Linked DNA regions of Homo sapiens. The protein of the gene in region 3 purifies or fractionates together with the protein of the main gene of each other region. This does not show direct contact. Each region holds a gene or a part of one and is shown on either strand. Other genes may lie near its edges.

The links.
Region 1: the proteins of TMEM9B (region 3) and ABCB9 purify together in Homo sapiens (affinity purification with mass spectrometry; 2 studies listed by BioGRID and IntAct, with this or other methods). This does not show direct contact.
Region 2: the proteins of TMEM9B (region 3) and DNAJC13 purify together in Homo sapiens (co-immunoprecipitation; 3 studies listed by BioGRID and IntAct, with this or other methods). This does not show direct contact.

What each region holds. Positions count from the first base shown.
Region 1 is NC_000012.12:122,956,317-122,959,970, reverse strand, and holds part of ABCB9 (ABC-type oligopeptide transporter ABCB9), read left to right. Parts: coding exon 1-336; intron 337-3,654. UniProt on the Homo sapiens protein: ATP-dependent low-affinity peptide transporter which translocates a broad spectrum of peptides from the cytosol to the lysosomal lumen for degradation.
Region 2 is NC_000003.12:132,535,932-132,539,585, forward strand, and holds the end of DNAJC13 (dnaJ homolog subfamily C member 13), read left to right. Parts: intron 1-2,244; coding exon 2,245-2,351; 3' UTR 2,352-3,101; downstream 3,102-3,654.
Region 3 is NC_000011.10:8,947,396-8,951,049, reverse strand, and holds part of TMEM9B (transmembrane protein 9B isoform a precursor), read left to right. Parts: intron 1-2,574; coding exon 2,575-2,730; 3' UTR 2,731-3,654. UniProt on the Homo sapiens protein: Enhances production of pro-inflammatory cytokines induced by TNF, IL1B, and TLR ligands. Has a role in TNF activation of both the NF-kappaB and MAPK pathways.

The DNA.
Region 1 (3,654 bases), on a different chromosome or scaffold from region 3:
TGTGCCTCTTCGTGGGCATCTATGCCATGGTGAAGCTGCTGCTCTTCTCAGAGGTGCGCAGGCCCATCCGGGACCCCTGGTTTTGGGCCCTGTTCGTGTGGACGTACATTTCACTCGGCGCATCCTTCCTGCTCTGGTGGCTGCTGTCCACCGTGCGGCCAGGCACCCAGGCCCTGGAGCCAGGGGCGGCCACCGAGGCTGAGGGCTTCCCTGGGAGCGGCCGGCCACCGCCCGAGCAGGCGTCTGGGGCCACGCTGCAGAAGCTGCTCTCCTACACCAAGCCCGACGTGGCCTTCCTCGTGGCCGCCTCCTTCTTCCTCATCGTGGCAGCTCTGGGTAAGTAAGGACCTCGGGGACATGTGGCCACCAGAACATCAAATTAGGTGGATATGACTGCCTTAGATTTTAAAAGATTTTACTTACGTGGTTCAGACATCAAATTGATATGAAAAGGAAAAGAGGCCAGGCATAGTGGCTCATATCTATAATCCCAGCACTTTGGGAGGCTGAGGTAGGAAGATCACTTGAGCCCAGGAGTTGAAAACCAGCCTGGGCAACATAGCGAGAACCCATTTCTATTTTATTTATTTATTTATTTATTGTATTTATTTATTTTTTCGAAACATAGTATTGCTCTGTCACCTAGGCTAGAGTGCAGTGGCACAATCTCAGGTCACTGCAACCTCTGCCTCCCAGCTTCAAGTGATTCTCCTGCCTCAGCCTCTCAAGTAGCTGGGACTACAGGCATATGCCACCACACCCAACTAATTTTTGTATTTTTAGTAGAAACAGGTTTTCGCCATGTTGGCCAGGCTGGTCTTGAACTCCTGACCTCAGGTGATCCACTGGCCTCGGCCTCCCAAAGTGCTGGGATTACAGGCGTGAGCCACGGTGCCTGCCCCATTTCTATTTTATGTAATTTAAAACGAAAAAATAGGCCAGGCGCGGTGGCTCACGCCTGTAATCCCAGCACTTTGGGAGGCCAAGGTGGGAAGATTGCCTGAGCCCAGGAGTTCAAGACCAGCCTGGGCAATATGACAAGACCCCATCTCAATTTAAAAAAGGAAAAAGTAAAAGACAAGAGAAGAAAAAGGAAACTATGAGTTCCACTCCTGTTTTTTTCTTTTTTTAGACAGGGTCTCACTCTGTTGCCCAGGCTGTAGTGCAGTGGCATGATCACAGCTTACGGCAGCTTCAACCTCCCAGGCTCAAGTAATCCCCCCACCTCAGTCTTCCAAATAGCTGGGACTACAGGGGCGTGCACCACACCCAGCTAATTAAAAAAAGAAAAATTTGTAAAGATAGGATCTCACTATGTTGTCCAGGCTGATCTCGAACTCCTGGGCTCAAGTGATCCTCCCACCTTGGCCTCTCAAAGCACTGGGATTACAGGCGCAAGCCACAATGCCTGGCTGTGTTTCACTTCTAATTCTACCCTGATCATTCTGCCCAGGGCTAACTGCAGGAAAAGGACCCAGAAACTCCCAGGTGGCCAGGAAAGCATTCTTTCTTACTCAATTCTTGTGCATGTTCCCAGCTTTTCCTTATGCAGCTACAAGCACATCAAAAGAACATGCATCACTCCCCCACCTCTCACCCACATTGTTTTATGTTTTGCTCTTTTCACTTAACAATATGTTCTGGAATTTTTCCAACCAGTACCTCATTGTTTTATTTGGCTTCATAATATTCCATTGTGCGGCTATACCATAGATTATTTAGTTGGTCTCCCATCATTTGACTCTTGGGTTATTTTGAGCCTTTTCCTCTTAACATGAATTTTTTTTTTTTTTTTTTTTTTGAGATGGAGTCTTGCTCTGTCACCCAGGCTGGAATGCAGTGGTGCGATCTTGGCTCACCGCAACCTCCATCTCCTGGGTTCAAGCGATTCTCCTGCCTCAGCCACCCAAGCAGCTGGGATTACAGGCGCCTGCCACCACGTCTGGCTAATTTTTGTATTTTTAGTAGAGACAGGGTTTCACCATGTTGGCCAGGCTAGTCTCAAACTCCTGAGTTCAAGCGATCTGCCTGCCTTGGCCTCCCAAGGTGCTGGGATTACAGGCATGAGCCACTGCGCCCGACCTGCACGTCAATAATTCTGTTCATACACATTTCATATGAATGTGGATGGATCTGTAGAATAAATTCCTGGAGCTGGGATCATCAGAGAATAGACTAGAAAACATCAGAGTGGGCAGGCATGGTGGCTCATGCCTGTAATCCCAGCGCTTTGGGAGGCCGAGGCAGGCAGATAACGAAAAAAAAAAAAAACTCTCAGCAGTTTGAGACCAAAAAAAAAAAAAAAAGATATTAATATTTTAGTTGTGTGTGCCTACGTGCAGGTGTGGCCTGGTTTGTGACATGAAATGTATTTGTGCCTGTGAGTCTGGTCCAAACAGTTTGAAGGCACCACTCAGCAACATGGGTGGGAAGGTGGCACTGCATGGTTGGAGCTCACAGGTTCTGGGGGCAACGAGGCCTGGGCACAAATCCCTGTCCTGCTCCCTACCCAGCCGAGTGGCCCTGCGTAAGTTCTCCAGCCTTTCTGAGCCTCACTTCCCTCCTCTGTGCAACAAGGATTGTTGGAGTCCTTATTTCCTGACATTTTAGATGCTGAAAAGAACGGGAGAGCTGGGTGCAGTGGCTCATGTCTAATCCCAGCACTTTGGGAGACCAAGGCTACAGGATCACTTGAGCCCAGGAGTTTGAGACCACTCTGGGCAACACAGCAGGACCCTGTCTCTAAAAGAAATGTTTTTTTAATTAGCTGGGCATGGTGGTACTTGCCTATAGTCCCAGCTACTCAGGAGGCTAAGGTGGGAGGATCCCTTGAGCTCAGGAGCTTGAGTTATAGTGAGCCATGATGACGCCACTGCCCTCCAGCCCGGGCAACAGAGCAAGACCTGTCTCTACCAAAGAAAAAAAAAAAAATAGGAGAAGGACTAAGTACAGAGCTTGGCTTGTCATGGTAAGTGCTCAGGGTTGTTAGCTATTATGAGTTTTAAAAATTTTAAGCTGGGCGCGGTGGCTCATGCCTGTAATCCCAACACTTTGGGAGGCCGAGGTGGGCAGATCACTTGAGGTCAGGAGTTTGAGACGAGCCTGGCCAACATGGTGAAACCCCGTCTCTGCTAAAAGATATATAAATATTAGCCGGGCACAGTGGCTCATGCCTATAATCCCAGCACTTTGGGAGGCCGAGGCAAGTGGATCACCTGAGGTCAGGAGTTCGAGACCAGCCTGGCAACATGGTGAAACCCCATGTCTACTAAAAATATAAAACTTAGCCAGATGTGCTGGCATACGCCTGTAATTCCAGCTATTTGGGAGGCTGAGGCAGGAGAATTGCTTGAACCTGGGAGGCAGAGGTTGCAGTGAGCCAAGCTCACACAACTGCACTCCAGCCTGAGTGACAAAGTGAGACTCCATCTCAAAAAACATAAATAATAAAATAGTAAAATAAAAATGTTAACTGACAGAGACAGAGCCTAGAGAGGTGACAATGCAATAACAATGCCAGAATGTTCTGAGAGAGGACAGGCAAACCCAGAGCTGGCCCTGACTCTGCAGCCCTGTACTCCTACGATCTACCTCTGCCCTCTCAGTCCCATCTCCTCAACATCTGTGTGAGGTTAGGCAAGTTATTTAACCCCT
Region 2 (3,654 bases), on a different chromosome or scaffold from region 3:
CTATCCGGGAATTGATTTTGATTTGCCTTTCCTAAAGAGGCAAATGATGGTACTAAAATTTGGTTTCTTCCTTCTAAGCCCATCATTTCACCATTTAGATTTTAGCTCAGAGGTTCCCACATTTTCTCAGTTCACAGTGCCCTTAATAGCTCAGTAATTTTTTCATCCGTCCCCAAGCCAAAAGAAATACCTAATAATTTAGTTTATGAAGTAATTGCAAGACAACTTGAAAGTAGTTGTTTGTATGGTGGTCAGCAGATGGCGCTGTGTTTCAAATTTAAAATACCCAGCAGTTAGCTGGATGATGTGGCAGGCAACTGTAGTCCACATGGACAGGCCGAATCCGCTACTCAGTAGGCTGGGGTGGGAAGATCACTTGAGCCTAGGAGTTCAAGGCCTGGATAGGGGAGTTGCTTGAGCCCAGGAGTTCAAGGCAACATAGTGAGACCCCCATCTGTTAAATACACACACACACAGAGGGGCAAAGGGAATAAATAAATATCCAGCAATGCCCCAGGGTGCCTCAGCACACAGTTTGAGAACTGCGTCATTAATCCACTTTCTAGATGCAGCATTCATGGTTTGGTCTTGTAACCTACTATTTTGATGGGAACCAAGTTGAGCCCACAATCAGAATTGCTCAGAAACTACACAGTCTGGAGTGTTTGAGGTCTTACTGTTAAGGGTTACATCTTTGATGACACCTACTGGATGGTTTTGCAGTAATCATGCTGCAGCCTAAAGTTCAGAGAATATGAGGGTGGTGGGAAATGATCACAGGGTGCTGCTGTAGCTCTGAACTGCGTTGTCAGAAGGGTTTGTTGACCTGGTGGCCTTTTTCCTGAGCAGACTGTGAAAGGCCTGGCATCCTGATTGGCTCAAGGCAGGAGTTGATAGATGCAGGCTCCCACAGTACCTTAAAAAGGAGAAATATTTTTTGTAAGTTCTACAAGTACAAGGTTTTTATAAGTACAGCGTTCCAAGTACCTGGGCACTCTGGTTGGCTTCAGTTACAGCTCACACAGGCTGAGTCATCTCTGCCTATGTATCTATACAAGCCATTTCACATCCATAGTACCAATACTTTTAAGGTCAAAAACAAGATGAATCTGAATGGTGGCCTTTTTGTCCTCCACCAATCCCTGTTTCTACCTTCATCAAACTACTCTGCTGTTTGCACTTCCTCACAACTTCCCTTGCTGCTTATATTTCTTTTTTCCCCTCAGGTGTCTCTCCTTCCCTTCTAACTGGCAGCAGCCCCCTTCACCTCAGGAGCGGGCTTTAGATCCGCTCTGCCAGGCAGCTTGCTAACTTCTGTGTAGCTCTCTGAAGCAGGTAGAGAAATGTTTTGCTAAATGCATGCCGCTCCCACTGCCTTTCTAGTCCTAACCCTCAATGTTCCTTAGTTGTTTGCCTTGTTTCCTACAATTTCAGCTAAAACTATTGCTCAGTATGCAGTATTATGCTACAGTGTCCCTTGCAAGTACTTGTTAGTTTGTGCAGTGCTTCTGAGATGTAATTAAATGTTTATGCAATGTTTAAAATAAACTCTAGAGGGCTAAAGCCATTAATATGCCCATAGGACACATCTCGATAAATGCTGGCATATATGGCATTTTCATGCAATAGAAACTGTTAGAATCAAGGGAGAAATATAAGACTAAAATATCAGTACCCTTTCACATAGCATTCTTGTTTTAACCTATGACAGATGGATGTCCAGAGCCTTTTCTTTTTCAGAGTCCTTGGTTTAGCAACCCTTGTTCGTTTGGTGTTACTTGTTATAATAGCATTTCTTTGCACCAAATGAAAATAGGTTAGTTTGAGTGTTGACAGAAGTGTTTATGTTGAATTTTGTCACATATGACTTTTGGATGAGCTGAGTGTAGAGTTTCTTTTGTCTGTCTGTTTCCATTTTTTCCATTCGACATAGTTCTTTTCAGTGCTCGGAATTTTTTGAAAGATTGAATTTCCCAAATGTAAGAAAGAAAATTTTATCCATATTTCCACACCAGTGTTACTGTCCAGCATACATTTTGAAATGATTTCTAGTCTATAGTGTAGGCAAACATGAAAATAGTACTATGTAGCTGTTTATTAAGGTATAGATGTAATTTAGGTAATTGAAATAGATGATTAGTTTTGTGTGATGGAGTGCCTGAGCAGGTTCTGACATTTTTATAAAGGTCAATGTTTTCACTTGACTGCTTTCTAGAGGTGTGTGTTTACCTTTCTCTCTTGCAGGACCTGGAGTTGCTGGCTACCTTACCGCAGGTACATCTACATCAGTCATGTCTAACCTGCCACCTCCTGTAGACCATGAGGCAGGCGACCTTGGCTATCAGACTTGAAATATTCACGAGAGACAATAAACGCTGAAAGGCCAGTGCCAAGTCCACATTCCTCCAGCTGATACGTTGAAGCAAACTCTTACTGCCTTTCTCCTGGTTTCATGACAGTGTTATTCCTTTTTCTATAAATATATTTTTAGGAAAAAAAGTCAGTGATCCTAATTGTATCACATTATAAGAAAGCACTCTGTGGATCAACATAAGTGGGTACACAAGAATTTTTTTTTTCTTGGTGTATGTAAGCACATTTGTTCCTTTATATCTGTTTACAAAACTGTGAATCAAAAAGACAAAACTTTCTTCCTAGTTTTTGTAATTTTTTTTTTGAACTAGCATGACTGTAGGGTTGAGCTACAGTCAACAAAAATTGGGCTAAGTCACTTTTCCCCAGGAAAGAATATTTCCCTCTCCTGCATCAAGTCTGCGTGGCCATCCTCCCCCCACCATCCAAGACTATTAGGTTTTGTCCCTGCACCCTTCACTGGCATCCTCAATCATTAACCTTCTGAAAGCTCACAGTACACATTAGTATGTATAACTGGCTTTACCAAATTGAATGAAAAGGAGCTTGTGCAAAAAAATTTAAAAATGGATGTCAAGATGTTATGTAAAAGATGAGTGTAATTGTGAAATGTTCTATACACTATCAAATATATAAAGCTTTCTATATTGAATGTACATTATACAGATCATTCATATGTGTACATAAAATTTTAAAAATAAAGGGAATTGACTGCTTTGTTAATGAGATATATTTGTTCTAGTTTAATCTTTCCGTTTGAAGACCTCATATATCTATCTTTATTTCTAAGACAGATGTAGTATTAAACAGACGTTATCTTACATTCGTAACTCTTCATATAGATGGCTGCATTAACATAATCTAATCATTCCTAACTTTAATATTTCAGCCACATCTAAGTTTCCAGACACAGCATCTCATTTATTTTTCATACAACATTCAGGAATGGGTCAGGCTGTTAATAATATGTGACATTAATTCTACTATTTTTAAGAAGAGAAAATTAAATAGCCAGAAGATTTTTCAAGTAACAAATCTCAGCACATAGATTTTCTAGTGTGACCACAAACTACAAGAAAATATAAACATGGAGAATATAAACAAACAGTTCTTAAAGAATGGGGAAATACCCACACTTCCAAGTTTCCTTTCAAAGCAAGAACCAAGTTTATTCCACAGTTGATGTGTAAGAACAGCCAAAATGGAAACTTACTCCTATTCCAAATCACTAATTCAAACTTCTGCATCAAGTTTATCATCTCTAACAGATTATAGAGTAAT
Region 3 (3,654 bases):
ACTGTCTCTGTGAGGCCTGGCTGACTCTTGGATGTCTTTTAAACTGATTCTAGGCAGAGAGGTTTTCTGACCAGAGCTGTGAATTTATGGTAACAACTCTACAAAAATAAGTGAATTTTAATTTTTAAAACTGTTGCTTATCCAAGATGTGAGTTCTGCACTATTTATATACTTTAAAAATGTTTTTGTTGAACTATCAGTTTTCATTTTTTCTGTTTTTGTTCAGTGTAGAGCATTTTAAAGCAAATAAAAGTGAGTACAAATAGTTAAGCTCACTGCAAGTAGTCACAATATTTACTATATCATATATCCATGACACATCATCGTTATTACCAAAGCATTACAGTAAAACATGTTTTGTATTTATTGTAATTTTATCAGGTGTGAAAAGAACAAACATAAAAAGGGTAAATCTCTATTTGCATTCCCCCAGCATCTGTGACCATGAGCAGCTAGTTCAATCTCGTTCTGATGGATAGAGAGCAGACCCAAAGGATTAGCTGGTTTGTTTAGTCTTTTGAACTTGTTCCTTAAGAAGATTTTTCTCCCCTACCTTGAAGAATAGATAACAGCACTAGGCAACTGAGAGGTCCTCTGCCGATCAAGTACATCCTTCTTCCCAGTATTGCTTATGTCAAAACAAACCAATGGTGATAATATTTTCCTCCTCTGGTCCTTGACTTCAGGGGATGATATTTTATACACAAATTCACTGAAGCACCATATTCTTATAGTGTCATTTTAATCTACCTGACCAAAATCTGTTTTGAGACAATATAACACCAAGTCAGGGTTAGGCAGGCTAAGTTTTAGTCTTTATGCTAATTTGTTAAATGACCTTGGGTCAATTTATTGCCATAATGGAAAATCAAGCAATTCTATAACTTTAGCCTGCCTCCTTTTTTTTTTTCTTTTTTAGCTTTTTTCTTACATTTTTTAAAACATTTTAAGCCTCATGAAATTGCCTTTATTATTTTCATTTGTAAGGTTAAAAGTTTAAAAATAGGCTATAGGTCCCAGCTACTTGGGACGCTGAGGCAGGAGGATCACTTGAGGCCAGGAGTTCAAGGCTGCAGTGAGCTGTGATCACACCTGTGAATAGCCCCTGCCTTCCAGCCTGGGCAACATGGGTAGACCCTATTTCAAAAAAAAAAAAAAAATTAAGTTCATGGCCAGTCTGGGCAATATAGTGAGACCCCATCTCTTTAAAAAAAAAAAATCCACTTTTTAAATAACTTGAGTTTTAGGATTTGTACAAGCCATTACCTAAATAAAGTGAAAAGTTGAAGGAATTTTGACAAAGAAGAGGAGGAAAGATTCTTTATAAAAACTCTTTGATATCTTTCAAATGTAGACATTGTATAAATGCCTTGCTATAAAAACAAGACCAGGTGTTCTAACTCCTATAATTATAGTTGTATATATAGTTATGTGGTTATGTATATAGCTTTCCATATACATGCAGACTCCTGCCCTGGATATATAATAGAGCTTTTTCAAACATGCACAGCAAAATAATGTTGTTTCTCTCCTAGAGGCAAAGTTTAGTATAAGAGGTACAACTTGTGACTTGGATCTTCTGTTGGAACATTGAGAAGCTTTGCTAACACGGGGTTCAAGAAAAAGAGATCAAGGAAAAGGCAAACAAAAGCAATAAATTACTATTGAATGCTTTTTGTCATTTAGACAGCTGTGTTTATATCTCATTCATAGATAGATTAGCATGGTGGTTTCCTGTGTAATGACTACAAACATCCAGTTGTACTCGTTTACTTTGACCAGGTTAGGTTGGTTTTCTATACAGATACCTGGGCAACCCTTCAATAGCCTCTTTCCCAAGGCAGCAACTTACATGGAAGCCACTGGGTGCTTAACAATGGAAGATTCAATCTTTGTTGAATAGAGAGGGTGATTGTAGCACTTGAGCTGTGTCTCTTTTCATTACACATTGGGGAAGTGGGGAAATGAGGAAGCTTTTGGAAGCTAATCCATTTAGTGTGTGTGTTGAGGGTACAGGGAGAGATTAAAAACAACCCAAGATAAGACTCTGTCGCTCACCCTCCCAGAGTGATGTGGCCCCAAGCTGGCAAGAAAACAATTCTAATGGAGACAGGAAATTAAAAGACAGATCTTTCCTCTGCCACAGATTAGCTTTATAGTATCGAATAAAGCAAGGAAAGACCCTACTTTCCATATCTATAACATGGAGAGATGTTAACATGAAAATAGATTTTCTTTTCCCTATCAGTTAAGGAAGGCTTCTCTTTAACACAAATGACCACTGTCTTTTGCTTGGTCTCCACTTCTTTAAGGGAAATATCTTTGGAAATGGCAATCCATGGGAACGTTTCACAAATACTCTGTCATCGCTTATGTTTCTTGAACCACCTAGGTCTGTACTTGAGTTCATACTCTATCTGGTAGTTGAGCGCTTAGGAGTGCTTAGCTAAATAGATGCTCTGTTGTTTGAAAAGTCCACCTACCCCTATTTCTGTGGCGGGCTGGTCACTGTTGTGTGTCTATGTTTTACACTGACTGTGCCATCTCTAATGTTCTCCATTCCTGGACTTTTAGGATCACCAGCCTTTTGCAAATGCACACGATGTGCTAGCCCGCTCCCGCAGTCGAGCCAACGTGCTGAACAAGGTAGAATATGCACAGCAGCGCTGGAAGCTTCAAGTCCAAGAGCAGCGAAAGTCTGTCTTTGACCGGCATGTTGTCCTCAGCTAATTGGGAATTGAATTCAAGGTGACTAGAAAGAAACAGGCAGACAACTGGAAAGAACTGACTGGGTTTTGCTGGGTTTCATTTTAATACCTTGTTGATTTCACCAACTGTTGCTGGAAGATTCAAAACTGGAAGCAAAAACTTGCTTGATTTTTTTTTCTTGTTAACGTAATAATAGAGACATTTTTAAAAGCACACAGCTCAAAGTCAGCCAATAAGTCTTTTCCTATTTGTGACTTTTACTAATAAAAATAAATCTGCCTGTAAATTATCTTGAAGTCCTTTACCTGGAACAAGCACTCTCTTTTTCACCACATAGTTTTAACTTGACTTTCAAGATAATTTTCAGGGTTTTTGTTGTTGTTGTTTTTTGTTTGTTTGTTTTGGTGGGAGAGGGGAGGGATGCCTGGGAAGTGGTTAACAACTTTTTTCAAGTCACTTTACTAAACAAACTTTTGTAAATAGACCTTACCTTCTATTTTCGAGTTTCATTTATATTTTGCAGTGTAGCCAGCCTCATCAAAGAGCTGACTTACTCATTTGACTTTTGCACTGACTGTATTATCTGGGTATCTGCTGTGTCTGCACTTCATGGTAAACGGGATCTAAAATGCCTGGTGGCTTTTCACAAAAAGCAGATTTTCTTCATGTACTGTGATGTCTGATGCAATGCATCCTAGAACAAACTGGCCATTTGCTAGTTTACTCTAAAGACTAAACATAGTCTTGGTGTGTGTGGTCTTACTCATCTTCTAGTACCTTTAAGGACAAATCCTAAGGACTTGGACACTTGCAATAAAGAAATTTTATTTTAAACCCAAGCCTCCCTGGATTGATAATATATACACATTTGTCAGCATTTCCGGTCGTGGTGAGAGGCAGCTGTTTGAGCTCCAATGTGTGCAGCTTTGAACTAGGGCTGGGGTT